Linked DNA regions of Homo sapiens: all the other regions are linked to region 4. The links come from fine-mapping of genetic effects on gene expression. A gene starts in region 4. Each other region holds a variant in brackets. All regions are shown on one strand. Distances are between the middles of the regions. Region 1 overlaps SNX1 (sorting nexin 1). Region 2 overlaps CSNK1G1 (casein kinase 1 gamma 1). Region 3 overlaps SNX1 (sorting nexin 1). Region 4 holds the start of SNX1 (sorting nexin 1).

Region 1 (5,000 bases), 30 kb after region 4:
CCTGCTGATGACCATCTTCATAGACTTTGGTGCTTATACCAAGGTCATCATTCAGATTATTTCTGGGTATCTCCTTTGTTTCTTTGCCAACATCTTCATGTTTACTCAAGATAGAGCAAGCCTGCATCCCCTTGGTAATCTCATCTGGGTACTCCAGACTGAGTCTTTTTAATACTCTTCCAGAAAGCTAACATTTCAGTGTGATTCTATTAACTCGTGGTATATCTGATACAGCCCCATCCCTCTTAGAGAACCATGTGGTTTGGAGCTAGATTCACAGATTGCCCTAAACCATCTTTTAAAATCTTCAATGCTTCTGAGGTTTCAGAGAGCTTTTTTAAATACTTAACCTTTTGCCCCTCTAGTCTGCTCTTCTTTTGTATATAATATTAATGCATACAAAATGTATACAATGTTGTATACAAGTTAGGAAGCATAATAAATGAAGCCCTAAACTTACCACTAGTCTTAAAGTTGAGTATCATTGGATCCACCTGCGTGTTTTTCCATCATATCCCCTGCCTCATACCTTAGAGGTGTCCTTTCTCCTGAGTTGTCTCTCATTTCCTTTATAAGAAATCTTTACATATATATATATATATATATATATATATATATGACTGTTTTGCTTTGTTTTGAGTTTCATAAAAATAGTATCATGGGGGCCGGTCACGGTGGCTCACGCCTGTAATTCCAGCACTTTGGGAGGCTGAGACGGGCAGATCACAAGGTCAGGAGATCGAGACCATCCTGGCTAACACAGGGAAACCCTGTCTCTACTAAAAATACAAAAAAATTAGCTGGGCATGGTGGCAGGCACCTGTAGCCCCAGCTGCTGGGGAGGCTGAGGCAGGAGAATGGCGTGAACCCGGGAGGCGGAGCTTGCAGTGAGCCGAGATCGCGCCACTGCACTCCAGCCTGGGCGACAGAGGGAGACTCTGTCTCAAAAAAAAAAAAAAAAAAATAGTATCATGCTGATAATTGTGCTTGCTTTATTTAGCATTGTTTCTCTCACCCATCCTTGATGGTCATGGCTGTAGTTAGTTCATATACCACAAAATATTTATGTTTTCCTGTTGTGAACATTTTCTGCTGTCAACATGTTTCTGGTTTTTGTAACTGGGAACTTTCTTGCACATCTCTAGTACACACGTAGAAGGATTTCTCTAGAGTATGTAACCAGGAGTAATTCCCGTGGGTCATAGGTACTGCAAATATTGGACACAAGGAATACAAACTGTTTTTTAAAGTCTTTGTACCAATTTGTACCCCATCAGCAGTGTATAAAAGTTCCCATTGATTCACTTCCTTGCCAGCAATTGGTGAGGCCAACCTCCTTAAATTTTGCCTATCTGGTGAGTTTAAAGTGAACTCTCATTGTGATGTAGCCCTAACTTTTTTGGTAGAAATCTGCTTTGTATTGTCTCTCTACTACTTGTTGGCCTGCGTCCTGTGAGCTCTAGATTATGATACTTTAGAGGTTACTGTCTACAGCTTAGACATTTCATCCAATTCCCACCCTGCTCATCACCTGCTTCCCCTTCTTAGAAGCACTTTTTGTCTGTCTTTAGTTTGGCTGCTGTAATTCCAGCAGCTAATACCCTTAAATAAGTCAATGAGGCTTGGCGCAGTGGCTCACGCCTGTAATCCCAGCACTTTGGGAGGCTGAGGCAGGTGGATCACCTGAGGTCAGGAGTTCGAGAGCAGCCCGGCCAACATGGTGAAACCCCATCTCTACTAAAAAACTATAAAAATTAGCTGGGCCTGGTGGCAGGAGCCTGTAATCCCAGCCACTCAGGAGGCTGAGACAAGAGAATTGCTTGAACCTGGGAGGTGGAGGTTGCAGTGAGCCAAGATTGCACCACTGCACTCCAGCCTGGGTGACAGAGTGAGACTCCATCTCAAAAAAAAAAAAAAAAAAAAGCAGTGAAGAATGAGCTGGGCATGGTAGCGTGTGCCTGTATTCCTAGCTACTTGGGAGGCTGAGGTGGGAGGATCGCTTAAGCCCAGGAGTTTGAGGCTGCAGTAAGCTGTGATCGCACCAATGCACTCCAGCCTGGGCAACAAAGTGAGATCCTGTCTCCAAAAAAAAATAGTCAATAAAAGATGAATGGGTTACTGGTTACTATAGAATTCTAGCTTTAAACTAGAACTGAACATTTCTTTCTTTAGAACAAGAGTTCTTAACCTGGGAATGAAACTGTATTTGAATTTTTTTTTCTCAAGGGTCACCATGGCTTCAGATGTATTTGAATTTAATTGATTGCCTTTATAATCCTATATATTTTTTGCATTTAAAATCATTATTCTGAGAAGAGCTCCTTAGGCTCCCAGACTGCCAAAGGGGAACTATAGTTTTAAAAAGTTTAAGACTCTCTGCCTTGGAGAAAGTTATTTGCCAGGTGACTGAAGGGCAGGGATCTGGGAAATGGGTTTCTTTAATGTCAATAGGATGACTTT[C/G]AAGATACCATCCCCTATTTGGAATGAAATTGCCTTGTGTTTTTTCCTGTCCCCAAGACAAGCTTACCATTGTTCAGAAGCAAACAGTTTGCAGTAAAAAGAAGATTTAGTGACTTTCTGGGTCTTTATGAGAAGCTTTCCGAGAAGCACTCTCAGAATGGCTTCATTGTCCCTCCGCCCCCGGAGAAGAGCCTCATAGGTAAGCCTGTGGTCTTTCATTCCACTTGGATTGTTTTCCTTTGCATTCTCTCCAAAATTCACTCACTGTTCAGTATATGAGACTACTTCTATTAACAGTCTTGTGGTTAGAAAAGAGACATTTCCAGTGTTTTCCTACACTGGAGGTCTAGAGAAAAATAGCATATTTTGGCATGTTCTCCTTGGGTGCAGTAGGAGCTCTGGGTTTAGCCTCCAGAGATGTTCGTTTGTTTTCTGTTGGTCTTCAGGAGTCTTACATGATTGCGGTTGCCTCCAGATTGAAATAGACTACATTGGATTAGGGGTCAGAGGAAGAAACCTCTTCATTTTGTTTGTTTGTTTGGTTGGTTTTTTGGTTTTTGTTTGTTTGTTTGTTTTTGAGGTGGAGTCTCGCTCTGTCACCAGGTTGGAGTGCAGTGGCGCGATCTCAGCTCACTGAAACCTCCACCTTCCGGGTTCAAGAGATTCTCCTGCCTCAGCCTCCCGCTTAGCTGGGACTACAGGTGCCCGCCACCATGCCCAGCTAATTTTTGTATTTTTAGTAGAAACAGGGTTTTACCACGTTGGCCAGGATGGTCTTGATCTCTTGACCTCGTGGTCCGCCCGCCTTGGCCTCCCAAAGTGCTGGGATTACAGGTGTGTGCCACTGCGCCCGGCCAGGAGCCTCTTCATTAACATCAGTTGATGTTTGTACTCAGGGTTCCATGGCCGCCTTTTTAAGAAAATGTTTACTCTGCAAGTCCTAGAGTTTAGAACCTTCAGCACTTAGAGACTAGTTTTCAAAAGTGGCTCTCATGTAAAGAACCTTTTGTTCATCCCTGCATATAACATAGAAGTGGCCTTAGGCTGTGTGCTAGCCTCACTGCCTTTCCTCCTGTTGACACTTAAAAAAAAAAAAGATTTATCCTCTTCATGATGATTTATGGTTATTTTGCTTTTTAAATTCCATTCTAGGGATGACAAAAGTGAAAGTTGGGAAGGAAGATTCTTCTTCTGCAGAATTTCTTGAAAAACGGAGGGCCGCTTTAGAAAGGTAAGTGCCATGCAGCCATTTTCCTGAATAATGTGAGGACAAATGAAAAGCTGAAAAGTGAGTCTAAATGACGAGACAGTCCATTGAGTTAGAGATGAAACGTGAATAAATTGAAGTTGCACACCTCCATATTATCTCTTAACTTTTCCTGAGTCGCTTATTTTCCCACCTTGAGAATAGACCATCTTCTGTTTTTTCCCCATCCTGAGTGAGCAGGCAGTCATATTCTTAGACAATCAATCAAATATGAATGGCTCTGAGGTTTCTTTCTGACCAGTTATTTTTCCCTCCCTTTTTGGAAATGTCAGGAATGTGAACTTGAATATGCTTACAAGGAGAGACCTACTTAAGTACCTTATCTTAGGGTACTTTAAGTACAAAAAGTACAGAAGACATGGTATCACTGCCAGCACTGTGTGACGCCCAGAACCTTCTGAGGCCAGCTCAACTAACCAGATGATAACTGCTTACCTTTTAGGTACCTTCAGAGGATTGTAAATCATCCTACCATGTTACAGGACCCTGACGTCAGAGAGTTCTTGGAAAAAGAAGAGGTTAGTATTCAGTGCAAACTGAATTTCATAATTTATATCTGCCCCTAGTGAAACGAAACTAGTTCATTCCAAAAATATGTGAGCACTTAACATGCCTAGTACTAGACTGTATCCTAGTTTTGTGTGAACCCCTGAGAGTGACAAGTATTTTTCAGCCTTTGAAATAAAAGAAGCTCTGCCCGAAGTCAAAAGCAGTTGGTTGTAAGGGTCAAATAGCAGCCTAGTATTGTCTTACTGGATCAACACAGTGATCTATTTGGCAGGTCCTTGGCATGTTGTAGGTTACTTCTTGGCTCAGATTGAATGTATATTTTATGCCAGGCGGGTCACTGGTTAACAGTTACCACAAACCACAGAACTACCATGTAGGAAAAGTGTTGATTGAAGTAGACAGTCTCTTTCACAGGCTATGCGTAGGCTAGTCATGATTGTCAAAAACTGAAAACAGCCCAATTGCTAACAGTGGAAGAATTAAGTAAAATATATCAATATAACCAAATACTTGATTCTCATCATAAACAAAGTATACAGAAATGTTAGTACATGGACATGTATGTTAAAAGAATTACAAAATTTGAAACATGAAATAGCATATAAATACAGCTGTAGAAACATGTAAGTCATTAAGGATCAAAAGAAACACTGGAGTGAAATGTTTTATCTCACAGGAAAGCAAACTAGAAGGAAGTAAGTGACTGGGTAGGGCTATCATTTTGCTTTAATTTTTATTTTTAAATTTTTCTTTCATTTGTATG
Region 2 (5,233 bases), 220 kb after region 4:
CCAAAGTAATTTATGGATTCAATGCTATCCCCATCAAGCTACCATTGACTTCCTTCACAGAATTGGAAAAAACTACTTTAAACTTCATATGGAACCAAAAAAAGAGCCCGCATAGCCAAGACAATCCTAAGCAAAAAGAACAAAGCTGGAGGCATCACGCTACCTGACTTCAAACTATACTACAAGGCAACAGTTACCAAAACAGCATGGTACTGGGACCAAAACAGATATATAGACCAATGGAACAGAACAGTGGCCTCAGAAATAACACCACACATCTACAACCATCTGATCTTTGACAAACCTGACAATAACCAGAAATGGGGAAAGGATTCCCTATTTAATAAATGGTGTTGGGAAAACTGGCTAGCCATATGCAGAAAACTGAAACAGGACCCCTTTCTTACACCTTATACAAAAATTAACTCAAGATGGATTAAAGACTTAAATGTAAGACCTAAAGCCATAAAAATCCTAGATAAAAACCCAGGCAATACCATTCAGGACATAGGCATGGGCAAAGACTTCATGTCTAAAACGCCAAAAGCAATGGCAACAAAAGCCAAAATTGACAAATGGGATCTAATTAAACTAAACAGCTGCTGCACAGCAAAAGAAACTATCATCAGAGTGAACAGGCAACCTACAGAATGGGAGAAAATTTTTGCAATCTATCCATCTGACAAAGGGCTAATATCCAGAATCTACAAAGAACTTAAACAAATTTACAAGAAAAAAACAAACAACCCCATCAAAAAGTGGGCAAAGGATATAAACAGACACTTCTCAAAAGAAGACATTTATGCAGCCAACAAACATGAAAAAATGCTCATCATCACTGTCATTAGAGAAATGCAAATCAAAACCACAATGAGATACCATCTCACGCCAGTTAGAATGGTGATCATTAAAAAGTCAGGAAACAGATGCTGGAGAGGATGTGGAGAAATAGGAATGCTTTTACACTGTTGGTGGGAGTGTACATTAGTTCAACCATTGTGGAAGACAGTGTGGCAATTCCTCAAGGATCTAGAACTAGAAATACCATTTGACCCAGCAATCCCATTACTGGGTATATACCCAAAGGGTTATAAATCATTCTACTATGAAGACACATGCACACGTATGTTTATTGTGGCACTATTCACAATAGCAAAGACTTGGAACCAACCCCAATGTCCATCAATGATAGACTGCATAAAGAAAATGTGGCATATATACACCATGGAATACTATGCAGCCATAAAAAAAGATGGGTTCATGTCCTTTGCAGGGACATGGATGAAGCTGGAAACCATCATTCTCAGCAAACTAACACAAGAACAGAAAATCAAACACCGCATGTTCTCATTCATAAGTGGGAGCTGAACAATGAGAACACATGGACACAGGGAGGGGAACATCACACACTGGGGCCTGTTGGGGGGTGTGGGGCTAGGGTAGGGATAGCATTAGGAGAAATACCTAATGTAGGTGATGGGTTGATGGGTGCAGGAAACTACCATGGCACGTGTATACCTATGTAACAAAACTGCATGTTCTGCACAGGTACCCCAGAACTTAAAGTATAATAATAATTTTTTAAAAGTAAGAAAAAAAATCTCCTGCTGGGAGAAAAAAAAAAAAACCCCAAAAACCAAGAACTTTTTTTTTAATCTTAAAAATAAAAGTTAGAAGGTTGTAGGTATATGGCAAAAAAAAAAAATTAATAAATAACTATTCAGTGAGTGCCTCCTATGTGCCTAAAACTGGGTTATTCCACTGAGGATATAACAGTGAACTTGACATATACAGCTCCTCTGCTCACAGAACTTCTAGTGTAGAGAGGGCCTCACAAACACATGAATTAAAAAAACACAAATCGGGACGATGCTACATATCAAAGATCTGCTAAACTAAGGATTACGGTGAAATCAAAGAGGAAAGTTTTATTTTATTCATATTTAGAGATGTGTTCTTGCTATGTAGCCCAGGCTGGAGTGTAGTGCCTGTTCACAGGTGAGATCACAGTGCAATGCAGCCTTGAACACATGGGTTCAACAGATTCTCCCACCCCAGCCTCCTGAGAAACCGGGATTACAGGCATGTGTCACCATGCACAGCATGGAAGAGTTTTAGATAGAGGGGTGGGAAGCCTTTTATTAGAAGACACATTTATTTTTTAAAAGTTTAAAAATTGTATGTTGACAATTTATAATTATATAAATGTAAGGGGTACAAAGTAATGTTATAATTTATGAATATAATATATAATAATTAAATCAAGCTAGTTAACATATCCATTACCTTAAATACTTAACATTTTTGTGGTAAGAATATTTGAAATTTATTCTCTCAGCAATTTTAAAATGTACAAAAACTATCTTCACCACACTGTACCACAGAATTAAAAAAAAAAAAAAAAAACATATCCCTCAGCTGAGATTTTGTTCCCTTTAACCATGGTCTCACCACTTTCTCAACCCTCCAGGCTCTGTAACCACCATTCTATTCTCTGCTTCTATGAGTTCAGTTGTTTTAGATTCCACACATAAGTAAGAACACGCGGTGTTTGTTTTTCTGTACCTGGCTTATTTTACTTAGCATAATAAAATATTCTCCAGTTCCATCCAAGTTGCCACAAATGACATAATTCCTTCTTTAAGGCTGAATATGTATATGTGTGTGCGTGTGTGTGTACATTTTCTTTATTCATTCATGTGTTGAACACTTAGGTTGATTCCATAACTTGGCTATTGTGAATAATGCTGCAATGAACATAAGAAAGCAGACATCTCTTCAACAAACTGATTTCAAATCTTTTGGATAAATACCCAGAAGTGGTATTGCTGGATCATGTAGTAATTCTATTTTTAGTTTTTTGACAAACCTCCATACAGTTTTCCATAATAGGAATACTAACTTACATTCTTACTCTGTCAGATGGCAATTACAAAAAAGACCAAAGATAACAAGTATTGGTGCGGATGAGAAGAAGAGGGAATCCTTGTACACTGTTGTGAAAACATAAATTAGAAGCCACATTTAAACAGTGTCCTCAAGGAAGAGATGGAGCCAACCTTGTCAAGAGCTAGGGAACACAGTTTCCAGAAAGG[A/G]AAAAGCAGCAGCCTATTAAGAAAGGCTTTTGGTGAAAGAAGACCAGCAACGCCGGGGATTACAATGAGCAAAGTAAAGAGGTAGCAGGAGTCCATTGTTCAGGATTTTATAGGTCACTGATAGTCCAATAAGAAGACATTTAAGAATGGTACTGACATTTATGCTTAAAGGGATTTAGCTTTACAAAAAGCATTTACATTTTCTAAACGATTGACTCTAGGTGCTGTGTGACCTATTCAGTGGAGTCAAACTGGAATTACTTGCCTTAGTAAAGGCAATTATTCCTTTTCAAAAAGGACGCTGAGCCTCACAGAATTATGTTCACTGACTAGGTCACACTGTCAAACACAGTCAAAGGAGTCCAAAAAGCCTGAGCCCTCCTCCCTTCTGCCACACCAACCAAATGATCCTGCTTGCCCACTCACTTACCCATTCATTCCCACTGAGCCAAAAGTGCACTGGCCTCACAACTGTCCTCCTGAAACAATTTTTTTTAAAAAATCTGTGCAGTGATTTTAACATGTCCACAAATTTTTTTCAAAGGAGCTAATTATTCCTCCCTCGAGAGACTTAAAATTTCTTCTAACACACTGAATGCTCTTCCTCACTTGAATACTATATTTATGCCCCCTTTCTGGGGCAAAATTTCTCCATGGGTCAAATCTGTGTTTTTTAAAAACAGCTTTATTAAATATAATTCACCTACTATACAATTTATCTATTTAAAGCACACATTTGGGTTTTGCTGTTGTTGTTGCTTGTTTGTTTTAACAGATAGGGTCTCGCTCTGTCAGCTACGCCGGAGTGCAGTAGCATGGTCAGAGCTCATGGCAGCCTTGAACTCCTGGCCTTTAGCAATCCTCCAACCCCAGCCTCTCAAAGCACTGGGATTAAAAACATAAGCCACTGGCACTCAGTTTTGCTTTTTAAAACAAACAAACAAACAAACAAACAAACAAACAAACAGAAAAAGTTAATGCAGGTTGGGCTCGGTGGCTCACGCCTGTAATCCCAACACTTTGGGAGGCCAAGGCGAGCTCATCACTTGAGGCCAGGAGTTCAGGACAAGCTTGGAAAACAGGGCAAAACCTGTCTCTATTAAAACTACAAAAATTAGCCGGGCATGGTGGCACACGCCTGTAGTCCCAGCTACTTGGGAGGCTAAGGCAGGAGAATCAATGGAACTCAGGAGGTGGAGGGTGCAGTAAGCTGAAATCATGCCACTGTTCTCCAGCCTGGACGAGAGAGCAAGACTCTGTCTCAAAAAAAAAAAAAAAAAAAAAGAAAAGAAAAAAAGTTAATACAGCTTGTCTATCATAAAGGGAGGAGACCACCCCTCATGTTGTCTTATGCCCAATTTCTGCCTCCAAAGAAAAAAGAAGTAAAAACTAAAAGGCAGAAATGAAATTCACAGGCAGACAGCCCAGCTCTGAGCCCTGGGCCTGGTAGTTAAAAATCAAGCCCTGACTTAACTGCTTGTGTTATCTATAGATTCCAGACATTGTATGGAAAAGCATCATGAAAATCTCTGTCCTGTTCTGTTCCATTCTGAATACCCGTGCATACAGCCCCCAGTCACGTACCCCCTGCTTGCTCAATCGATCATGACCCTCTTACGTGGACCCCCTTACAGTTGTAAGCCCTTAAAAGGGACAGGAATTGCTCACTTGGAGAGCTTGGTTTTTTGAGACCTAAGTTTGCTGATGCTCCCGGCCGAATAAAGCCCTTTGGTGTCTGAGGGGTTTTGTCTGCGGCTTGTCCTGCTACATCATAATTCGTATTATTGCTGCTATTATCATGTCACAGCCTTTAGAGACATGGAACTTTTTTTTTGAGATGGAGTCTCGCTCTGTCGCCCACGCTGGAGTGCAGTGGCATAATCTAGGCTCACTGCAACCTCCGCCTCCCAGGTTCAAGCAATTTTCCTGCTTCAGCCTCCTATGTAGCCGGGATTACAGGTGTGCGCCACTACGCCCGGCTAATTTTTCTATTTTTAGTAGAGACAGTGTTTCACCATGTTGGCCAGGCTGGTCTCAAACTCCTGACCTCAGGTGATCCGCCAGCCTTGGCCTCCCAAAGTGCTGGGATTACAGGCGTGAGCCACTGTGCCCGGCCTAAAGTTTTCTATAGAATTTTT
Region 3 (5,000 bases), 42 kb after region 4:
CAGGCTGGAGTGCAGTGGCGCGATCTCAGCTCACTGCAAGCTCTGCCTCCTGGGTTCACGCCATTCTCCTGCCTCAGCCTCCCAAGTAGCTGGGACTACAGGCTCCTGCCACCACACCTGGCTAATTTTTTGTACTACCGTGTTAGTAGCCAAGATGGTCTCGATCTCCTGACCTTGTGATCCACCTGCCTCGGCCTCCCAAAGTGCTGGGATTACAGGCGTGAGCCACCGCGCCCGGCCGAGGTCAGGAGTTTTAGACCAGCCTGGCCAACATGGTAAAACCCCATCTCTACTAAAAATACAAAAAATTAGCCAGGGCTGGGCACGGTGGCTCACGCCTGTAATACCAGCACTTTGGGAGGCCAAGGTGAGTGGATCACGAGGTCAAGAGATTGAGACCATCTTGGCCAACATGGTGAAACCCCGTCTCTACTAAAAAAAATACAAAAATTAGCTGGGCGTGGTAGCACCCACTTATAGTCTCAGATACTCAGGAGGCTGAGGCAGGAGAATCGCTTGAACCTGGGAGGCGAAGGTTGCAGTGAGCTGAGATCACGCCACTGCACTCCAGCCTGGCAACAGAGCAAGACTCTGTCTCAAAAAAAAAAAAAAAAAAATTAGACGTGATGGCACACGCCTGTAGTCCTAGCTACTCAGGAGGCTGAGGCACGAGAACCGCTTGAACCTGAGAGGCAGAGGTTGCAGTGAGCCAAGATCGCACCACTGTACTCCGGCCTGGATGACAGAGCGAGACTCCATCTCAAAAAAAAAAATCTTGGCAGGAGGGGTCCTGGCTGGGTCTTTGAAAAGCTACCTAGCTGATTCAGATATGCCTTCTCGTGAGAACTAAATTAAGTTTTCCAGGCCTTTCAGCCCTGCTGGTGAGTACCTAAACTGGAGGCTGCTGGCATGTCAGAGCCTTCTTGAAGGACCACACTTGGTCCCAGATGCCTGAAACACAGGCATCTCTTTTCCAGTCAGCCCCTAAAGTAGCCTTCTGCCGGACTCTGACTTACGTGTGGAATCCTCTGTGACACCTCATCTTACCCACAGGGACAGACAGACATAATGATCAATTGAGCCCTCATATGTAAAATCGCTGTCCAAATGTGAAGGCTTAATAATGGTGCCATAATATGAGGTGATCCTTTCTTTCCTCTTTCTTCCCAGTGGGAGTCTCGGGTGACTCAATATGAAAGGGACTTCGAGAGGATTTCAACAGTGGTCCGAAAAGAAGTGATACGGTTTGAGGTGAGATAGAAAATCCTACTTCTCACTTAGCATGCAGTGCTTGTTTTGGGAGTACTCTTGGTGTTGTCCAACTCTGTTGGGTAAAGAGAGAGGTGCCAGTAACTTGGCAGTTCTCGTGAGCAGGCGTGGCCTTCTTTGGGGGGGTGTGTGCTTGATCCTAGGAACAGTGGCAATCTTACACTTGTGGCTGGACCACAGCAGTTAAACACAAATCTTGCAGCTGCCATATACCCTCGGTCCCCTGTCGTTTCTCCTCCACTTCCCATCTCCTGCCCTCCAACAAAGCCTTTCAAGGCCTTGGCAGACCCTCTTTGGCTGGAAATTACAGCTGTTCCACCTGCTGCCTCTACTTTCTGAGACTGTGTTTGGCCTTGGTCAGCAATAAACACCACCATCCCATCGAAAGGGAAAGCAAAAACTGGATGGTCAGTGTAGAATCTTGTCTCCTAGAAAGAGAAATCCAAGGACTTCAAGAACCACGTGATCAAGTACCTTGAGACACTCCTTTACTCACAGCAGCAGGTATGTAAGTTGTGTGTGACCTTCATCCTCTACTGCCTGCTCCAAAGGCCAGCTGCCTCCTCGGGGCTTCTGCAACAAGATGTGCAGGCCCTGCTTCTGAGGGGCTGGGCCCTCCTATAGTCCATCATTGAAAATAGGTCCTGCTGCTCTGACATGGAGCATCCAACAGGGTCTTTTACCAAGCAGGAGGGCCCAGGTCTGCTGCCCTCATTCTGAGGTGAGTTAGTTTTTGAGGACAAACCCCATCTCCCTGTAACTGCTTACCCTTCGAGGAGCCACCCCATGGTACCACCTGGCCCTCCTGAGGCTGAGGCCTCATCGGTATGTGAAACAGTGGCCCCACTGTGAGGAACTAACTGAGCCAGGCAAAGCTGTGGCCACCACAGGGGTGCTCCCTCTGGGGTGGAGCCAAGACTGTCTTCAGAGACTGCCCTTGCACTTGGGGCTCAGTAACTGCTGCCTTCCCTGTCGAGAGGGAGGTGTGAAGGTCATGTGGCCTGTGCAGCTGCTCGGAGCCTGCCTTTGTGTGGCAGGCGCTTGGGGAGCGCCAGGGTACTGTGCTTGATTCCTCCCAGGCTGGCTTAGGCTCTGCCACTAGGTGGGGGCACTTGCTTAATGTCCCCACTTCTTTGCAGCTGGCAAAGTACTGGGAAGCCTTCCTTCCTGAGGCAAAGGCCATCTCCTAATGGACCAAGGACCCCAGAGCCCACCTGTGTGACGCTGCCTTTTTATACACTGTCCTCCTCCACCTTGATGGACCCCTAGTGATGCATCCTGCCTAGGCTGGACTTAACCCCTTCCTCCCTGTCCCCACGACCAACTGTCCCCAGTTACTCTAACCGTTATTTCATTTAGCTTCCATATATATTTTCTTACCTAAGAGAATAGTTTCCTGCTTTAAGCAAAAGACCTACAATAGGTGGTGGAATTATGGGATGGGGTGGAGTATTGATATAAATAT[A/G]TAAATACAAATGTATATTTTTCAGGATGTGGTTTAGGAACTGGGAATAACGTTTTCTGTTACTCCTGATGGTGCCATGAAAAGGTTATGTAATAAAATATTTTAAAATCAGGTCACATGACTCAGAATGTTGGTGGTTTTTGCTTAGGCTGGGGAGCAGTTGGGAATCAGGTCTGGAATACTCCTAACCAAGAAGTTGCCCAGGTATAGTAAGTTTTTCTCTACCGTTCACAAGTTTTGTGCTGCTGCTTCCCTCTGGAAATGGGGTTTCTTTCTCTCCGCCTACCTCAGCTACCTGTTCTGAGGGTCTCAATCTGTTTCGTATTCCCACTTCTTTAGGGAAGGAGTTTTAAAAACATCTCTTAAAATAAGAGGAGCAAAATCTATTAAAACCTATTCTCCTGCAAAGGAGGCAGAGACTTTCTCTCTCTCTTTTTTTTTTTTTTTTGGTGTCCCTATCATTAAGCAAGAGCCTTTCTCTTTTATTCTTCCTGCTTCCCTAAGCTGCTCAGGGTTCTCTGAGTCTTGCCCTCTGATGGCAAGTCTTATATATAACTAAACCTATTTTTGTCACCCATCAAAACACATCCTCAGTAGACTGTGTGAAGGTGTGAAGGTCTGATAATGACTTGATGCTTTGTCTCCATAGACATGAAAGCCATGCCCTCTGCCTCTAGATAGGGTGATCCAAGAGCTCCTGAACCTTAGGAGGTTCAAAGAAGCTCTACTGTCTGTGCCCAGGAGGTAGCCTGCCAGCAAGAGCCCTCAGGAGTTGCACACACAGCCAAAGGGTGTTCACACAGATCTCTGCCGGTCTAGCCAGGGGAGGCCAGAGTCTCGTCAGTCAAGGATGGGCTTCCCCCTTAGCTGTGTCCACAGCTGCTCAAGCTATACTGGTCAGAGTGGGCTTTGAAGCTCCTTTGTGAGCTCGAGCTGCTGACTGCCACTATGGGAGCCTTGCCACCTCCAGCCCCTCCATCCCAAAGACGCTCCTGCCACTGGGGCCCCAGGTCCTGCTGTATCAGTTCTCTTTGGTGGGGGGCTAAGGTTTGGGGCGAGGCAACCTGAGACAAGAAAACGCAGTAAACATTCTGATTCCCTGTACACAGATGCAGCACCAGGGGAAGGGCCAGTGGTGCAAGTATTTCTTTTTAACAGGTGAAGTTTTTGGAAAAAGTCACTCTCCCTACCCCTCAGTATCCTTACCATCAACTTTGGTTTTATCCTTCCAGTCTTTATTATATGCTTGCTTTTACATAGTTGTAATAATATACACATAAAGTATTTTGTATCCTGCTTTTATCATTCAACATTGTACATGTTATAAGCATTTTACTATATTGTTATATATCTTCACAAAGTTGATCTGTAAAGCTGTGTAATTTGAAGGCATCCATAGGGTGACTGTACCATAATTTTGATTCATCCCTTGTTGTTGGATTCTTGGTCAGGGGTTGTTTGTTTTGTTTTATTGGTAACTTTAAAATTTTGAATACAATTTCAGATTTACAGAAAAGTTGCAGGAATATCACAAAGAACTCCTATATATCTTTTATCCAGATTTACTGAGTGTTTACATTTTATCCCATTTGCCTTATCTATATTTCATGTTGCATTTTCTTAATCATTTGAGAATAATTTGCACAGATACCCCATTATGCCCAAAACAGTATGCATTTCCCTAAGAACAGGACATTCTCTTCTAAGAGAAGAAGAGAATTACTTTAAGCATTATTCAGTATTTTTTTAAGTATTATTATCAAAATCAGGAAGTTTAACAGTGATTTAATACTGTTATCTAACCCATGATTCATATTTAAATTTTGCCATTTATCCCAATAATGTCCTTTGTAGCCATTCTTTTACCTTGTGCAGGATCATGTTACATTTGTAAACGTGTGTCTCTCAATACTGCAGATTCCTCAACTTTCTTTTGTCTTTCATTACCATGACATTTTTGAAGAATACAGGCTATTTTGTCGAATGTTCCTCAGTTTGGATTTGTGTGATGGTTCCGCATGACTAGGTGAGGGTTTTGCATTCTGGGTGGGAATATCACAGAAGCAGTGTGTCGTCAGTGCGTCGTAATCAGCATATAATGTCAGTTGGTCCCATTAATGTTGTTAACTCTGTTCACCGCTTAGGTTGGTGTCTGCCAGATTTCATTTTAAATTTACGATTTCCTCTTTGTAATTTACAAGTAATTTGTGGGGAGATACTTTGAGACTATATAAGTATTTTGTTCCTCATTCACCAGTTATATAGT
Region 4 (5,230 bases):
ACCCACAAGCGCCCTCAGCGGTAGCAAGAGTGCGTGTCCAGGAGCTAGAGAACGAGGCTCTAGTAGTGCAATCAGGCCAGCTTTGCTTCCTAACCAGGCACCCTAGACTTGTGGTCTCCCCACAAGTCTTGGAATGGTTACTAAGACGTAGGCCACACGTGGAGAATGAAGCTTTTAAGACCTCTGGGTTCGGCTTGCCCCAGGTTTACGAAGAGCCCAGTTCCCAGAAAGACCCACACCCCCCACGTGACTTAGGACCCCGAAGAAAGCGCCTGCTACGCCCCGGACAAGATCTGGCCAAAAACAAACAAACAAACAAACAAAAAAAAAGGTCTCCCCTCCCAGCCCTCAGGTGAGGCCATCATCCCCGCACCCCTCAGCTCCGGCCTGCACCTATAACGCCAAATGCTGTGCTGGGTAAAATTAATTACCATAAACTTCTAGCGCTTTCTCTTCCATGATCCGGGGCTGCCGGGCAGCTCCCGGCTCAGAGAGGCCGGAGAGCCACAGGACTCTGCTCAGCGTCCAGGAGAGCAGCCCGGACACCCGCTGCATCTTCACGCTCAGCCATCCCTGGCGACTGTCCCAATCGCGCCACCGTCTCTCAGCAGCCTCGGGATTGATCAACTTCCTGGTCTTCAAATGGGCCGAGACAAGCCTAAAGGTTCAGGAGAGCAGAGAAAAGGCGGGGCCAGACGGAGTAGCTCGAAGGACCTAGGGAAGGGGCCTCAAGGACTACAAGTTCCAGCGTGCTTTGCTCGATTTCGGCGGGACAAAAACAATCTTCGCGGCTCGTCAGCACATTGCATGCTGGGATGCGTGAGCTATTTTCTTCGGAAGGCAGCGAATTGTATTCTGGGACTTGTAGTGTCCGCCTGGTAGAAGTGGATGTAACGGTCTGTTAACCGCGACTGACTCACTCAGTATCCGTGATAAGTTAAAGATGAATCCTGAAGGGGTAGGGGAAAGGAGATCTTGAGTTCTCCAGCACGGAGACTCTTTACAATTATTTCTCCGCGGGATCCGCTGACAGCCAACGTCTTTCTTACTTCCTGATCGGACAGGAAGTAGGTTTCAGTTGCTGTGAAAAGGGATGTCATGGGAAGCCAGTGAGGTAGTCAGGTATGGCATGGGGAGGGCTTTTTGGCTTTCTCGTCTCCTAAGGGACTCAGTCCAGCACAGCTTCCCACCTTTGAACGAATATTTCTGCTAATGGCCTCCAAAGACAACTTAGAACATAAGTTTTCCCGTGTCTAATGTGTACAGTGGTGACATAATGGAGATCGCCATCCTTAAAAGTGTATCTTGGCCGGGCGCGATGGCTCACGCCTATAATCCCAGCACTTTGGGAGGCCGAGGCGGGCGGATCACCTGAGGTCAGGAGTTCGAGACCAGCCTGGCCAACATGGGCAAACCCCGTCTCTACTAAAAAATACAAAAATTAGCTGGGCGTGGTGGCAGGGGCCTTAATCCCAGCTACTTGGGAGGCAGAGGCAGGAGAATCGTTTGAACTCAGGAGGCAGAGGTTGCAGTGAACCAAGATCGAGCCATTGCACTCAAGCCTGGGGGAGAAGAGCGAGACTTCCCTCAAAAAAAAAAAAAAAAAAAAAAGTGTATCTTAAGCCCTCTGGTGTTCGTGGGTGTGATGGATGCCAGTAACAAAATCGATTTTATTTTATCCATCCATCCCTCCGATCAAATTTGTAGGTACTAATTTGCCATAGGTGATCCATAGGCATGGAAGATACAAAGATAAAACGCTGCCCCCGCCTTCAAACAGCTCACATGACCTGTGAGGGAGTCCATCCCTGAATTTGCAGTTACAACCAAACTAACTAAACCTCTTGTCAAAGTTGGTGACAAATGCCATTTCTATTGAGAAGATAGGATTATCTTGCAGAATTGTCCCATGCTAACATGCCCATTTATCTTTAAACTCCAGTCTTGTTTGTCTAGTTAATGTAGGCCTTAGGATCACCAGACAATGAATTGCTTAGGTCCCAAGGAAATTTTGGTCAGGGTTCAATAATTTCCCTGCCGTCTATTCCACTCCACTTACTCCACAGCAATTGAGAGGATAATCCTAACATTTTTCCAGCCAAATCTAGGACACTGAGGCCTCACTTCATCTGTGAGGCCTCCCTACTTCTCCAAGCAGAATTGATTATCTCTTTCCCTGTGCTCCCACAGGGCACCATAGCATTGAACATGTCGAACTGTCGATTAAATACCTGATTTCTGTATCTGAAACTCACAGCAAGGTGCCAGGCATACAGTAGATGCTCAGTATCTGTATTTCTTAATGAATTAACTGAATGTTGCTCAAGGAATAAGTGGTGAAGCTTTCTTCTAGTCTTGTTCAGATACCTCAATCGAAATATTTATTGACTCTCTGTGAGGGCATTGTGCTTGGCATGGGTAGATGGCATGTAGAGGTTTTCAAACATTTTAGTGACACTCCTTCATTCAGACGAACTCTTAGAAGCCTGTTGGATAAAGCTATCCAGAGCACAAAGGGCCCTAGAAACCTGAGCAGCCCCTAACTCCTACTTTTCTGCCCCTTTGGCCCCACTCGTTAATATCTCAGCATCGCGAACCAGGCCTCGGATTTGCTGCGCAGCCTCAGCTGGCCGGGTGCCGCCCCGCCCCCAGCGCCTAAGCCCCGCCCCTAGGTCTCCGCCCCTCGGATCCCACGGGGTCCCTTGCGGCCCTCCCACTCCTCGCACCGTTGGATCGCTTTGCTCACGGCGCTATCTCTCGATAAAGTTGTTGTTGCGGCTTCCGCCGCGGGTGGAAGAAGATGGCGTCGGGTGGTGGTGGCTGTAGCGCTTCGGAGAGACTGCCTCCGCCCTTCCCCGGCCTGGAGCCGGAGTCCGAGGGGGCGGCCGGGGGATCAGAACCCGAGGCTGGGGACAGCGACACCGAGGGGGAGGACATTTTCACCGGCGCCGCGGTGGTCGTGAGTTTGCACCCCTCGGGGTAGCAGGCGGGAGGGCACCCCGAAAGGGAAGAGAGGCTAAGCGAGAATCGGGGAGGTTGGGCAGAGTGGGCCCGGTGAGACCTTGCCTCGGTGTCAGCAGTCCGGGCCCCGGGGACCCTGGATGTGCTCGAAGCGGTAGAGCTTGGCTTCCCGGCCCCCAGGCGGGAAGAGTAAAGAATGAGGGTTGTGGTGCCTTCGTCGGCTAGCTCCCTAACAGCCGAGAACCGCCGACGCCGTCCTTTGACCCTGCAGTGTGGTGACACTCCACGGATCCACGGGGTTATTTTGCAGGTCGTGTCCTGCCAAGGCAGATTCAGTAGGACGGAATAAGCGAATGGGATGCAGACCTTTCCCCCGTCTTACTGCTTCTAAGATGAATAGCGTTATGTGGACTAGCCTGGGGTGGTGACCCGCCCACCAGTTCTTTCTTTAGCCCAGCATTTACCGATAATAACCAAAGGCCCTTTCTGGATCTTAGTTTACAAAAGTTATGTTGATTCTTCTGATCTCTAGGAAAATCAGGCCAGAGGCTGGTGGACAGAAGGCACTGCCAGATAAATCACTACATAGATCAGAAAGCTTTCTCCTTTTTAAAGGGATGTGTTCAAGTGCCCACGTACCTCACTGGGAGCAAATCTGAAATGTGATGAGGAAATGGTGTTTCCCGTAATGTTACCGGTAGGAGGCCCTTGAGTGTAGGTTGTCGAGGTTCTTGGCATTTTGAACAAATAATTGGACAAAACGCACAAAATAACAAAGGAATGAAACACAAACGAAGCAGCGAAAGCAGGAATTTATTAAAGCGAGAAAGCACCCCACAGGGTGTGAGTGGGCCGGAGCAAGGGGCTCAAGAGCCCACTTACAAAGTTTTCTGGATTTTAAGTGCTCCTTTTATGGTTCCTATGGGTTACCCCTTATCTGGATGAAGGATTTGGTCTGTGGCTAAAGGCCGAGGTGAATTGGCGTCCTGTGCAGATGAACGGATGGTCCCTGCTTGGCCTGCGGCCAGTCTAAGGCACTCTCCCTTTCCATGTGAGACGTGGTGGATGGGGAGGGTTGCAGGGATAGTAGCCTTTGATCCTTTGCCACTCGGGCGTGGGCAGATGGGTTTTTTCCTTTTGGTTTAGCTTTAGGAAGTTGGCCTTAATTGGCCTTAGGTTCCCTGCCCCCAAACCCAGGGGGTTCCTTTTGGGAATTCAGCTTTGGGAAGTCAGCACGAATTGGCCTTAGATTCCTTGCCCCCAGACCTTGGTGTTTTCTCTTTTAGAAAGTTAACGTAAGTTGACCTCAGATTCCCTGCCCCCAAACCTTGGTGTTTTTCCTTGATTCAGCATGAATTGCCCTTAAGTTCCCTGCCTCCAGACCCTATTCTCCTGCCTCAGTAATAAATATCCGGGTCTCTAATAAGAGTTAGGTATTAGAAAAAAATAATCTTTGTAATGTGGAAATCAGTAATCAGTTATGGAACCAGTAGAGATGTTTTGGGCTATTTTATGAGAATATTTACTCATACCACTTGGTATAGGTTGTTCCAGGCTGTAAAATTCAATGCTGGGTCTGTGAATTTATCTGTTTGGCATAATGCTTCTCTTCACAGTAGCTACTCAGTGTGTAACCAACTAAATAAAACAGCTATAAATTCTTTATGCAACATGTGGTCTGAAAAAGTTTGAGGCTTTCCTCATTTGTGTCAGATTTTCCCTGTCCTGTATTCAGAAATTGAGTCCATAATCTCAGCTCATAAGGTGCTTGATAATTCTAATATAACAACTAAAACTGTCAAATGAAGTCTCTTATTCTGAGAAATAATAAGTCTTTGTGACTGTCATAAAACAGGAAACAATTTTTGTTTGTTTTTAGAGACATAGTCTCCCTGTGTTGCCCAGGCTTGTCTTGAACTTCTGGGCTCAATGGATCCTCCCTTCCTCCTAAGTAGCTGGGATTGCAGGTGCATGCCTGAGAAATAATAATTCTTGCCGCTAATTTAGTCCTTCTGTATGTTATTTTAAGTAAGTATTTAGTCTGTTCCTTTAGTAATTCTTCTATAAGTCATGGAAGACAGCTACTGTTGGTAACTGCTGGAATGATGTGCAGACTGAGAATATGAAAACAGAAACTCTGACACTGAAAGTGATTGGTCACATAGGCAAATGTTGATTTATTTTCCAAAAAGGAACCTGGAAGAGTGAGGAGTTATTTTCTAGAGTTAACCTGAAGCAGTGGCCGAGTGCCATGCACACGTGTAATCTC

Evidence for each region. PIP is the estimated chance that this variant, and not a neighbour inherited with it, causes the effect.
Region 1: its variant is fine-mapped to the expression of SNX1 in whole blood (INTERVAL, PIP 0.97).
Region 2: its variant is fine-mapped to the expression of SNX1 in blood mononuclear cells (TOPMed, PIP above 0.99).
Region 3: its variant is fine-mapped to the expression of SNX1 in whole blood (TOPMed, PIP 0.97).

Annotation. Positions count from the first base shown.
Region 1 is chr15:64,123,562-64,128,561 of GRCh38, forward strand. SNX1 (sorting nexin 1) reads left to right here. Exons shown (of 15, transcript NM_003099.5): 6 at 2,518-2,659; 7 at 3,613-3,691; 8 at 4,170-4,245. Among named protein-coding and RNA genes, the nearest start is that of SNX22, 26 kb to the right of the region's middle. The variant C/G (reference allele first, on the strand shown) is at 2,461.
Region 2 is chr15:64,312,178-64,317,410 of GRCh38, forward strand. The region is part of intron 1 of CSNK1G1 (casein kinase 1 gamma 1); the gene reads right to left. Among named protein-coding and RNA genes, the nearest start is that of CSNK1G1, 41 kb to the right of the region's middle. The variant A/G (reference allele first, on the strand shown) is at 3,096.
Region 3 is chr15:64,135,160-64,140,159 of GRCh38, forward strand. SNX1 (sorting nexin 1) reads left to right here. Exons shown (of 15, transcript NM_003099.5): 13 at 1,171-1,251; 14 at 1,702-1,773; 15 at 2,409-5,000. The coding sequence ends at 2,459. Among named protein-coding and RNA genes, the nearest start is that of SNX22, 14 kb to the right of the region's middle. The variant A/G (reference allele first, on the strand shown) is at 2,735.
Region 4 is chr15:64,093,214-64,098,443 of GRCh38, forward strand. SNX1 (sorting nexin 1) reads left to right here and starts at 2,769. Exons shown (of 15, transcript NM_003099.5): 1 at 2,769-2,959. The coding sequence starts at 2,801. It overlaps CIAO2A (cytosolic iron-sulfur assembly component 2A), which reads right to left and starts at 625. Exons shown (of 5, transcript NM_032231.7): 1 at 432-625. The coding sequence starts at 555. RefSeq lists enhancers at 1-262, 308-1,037, 2,753-2,872, 3,013-3,092.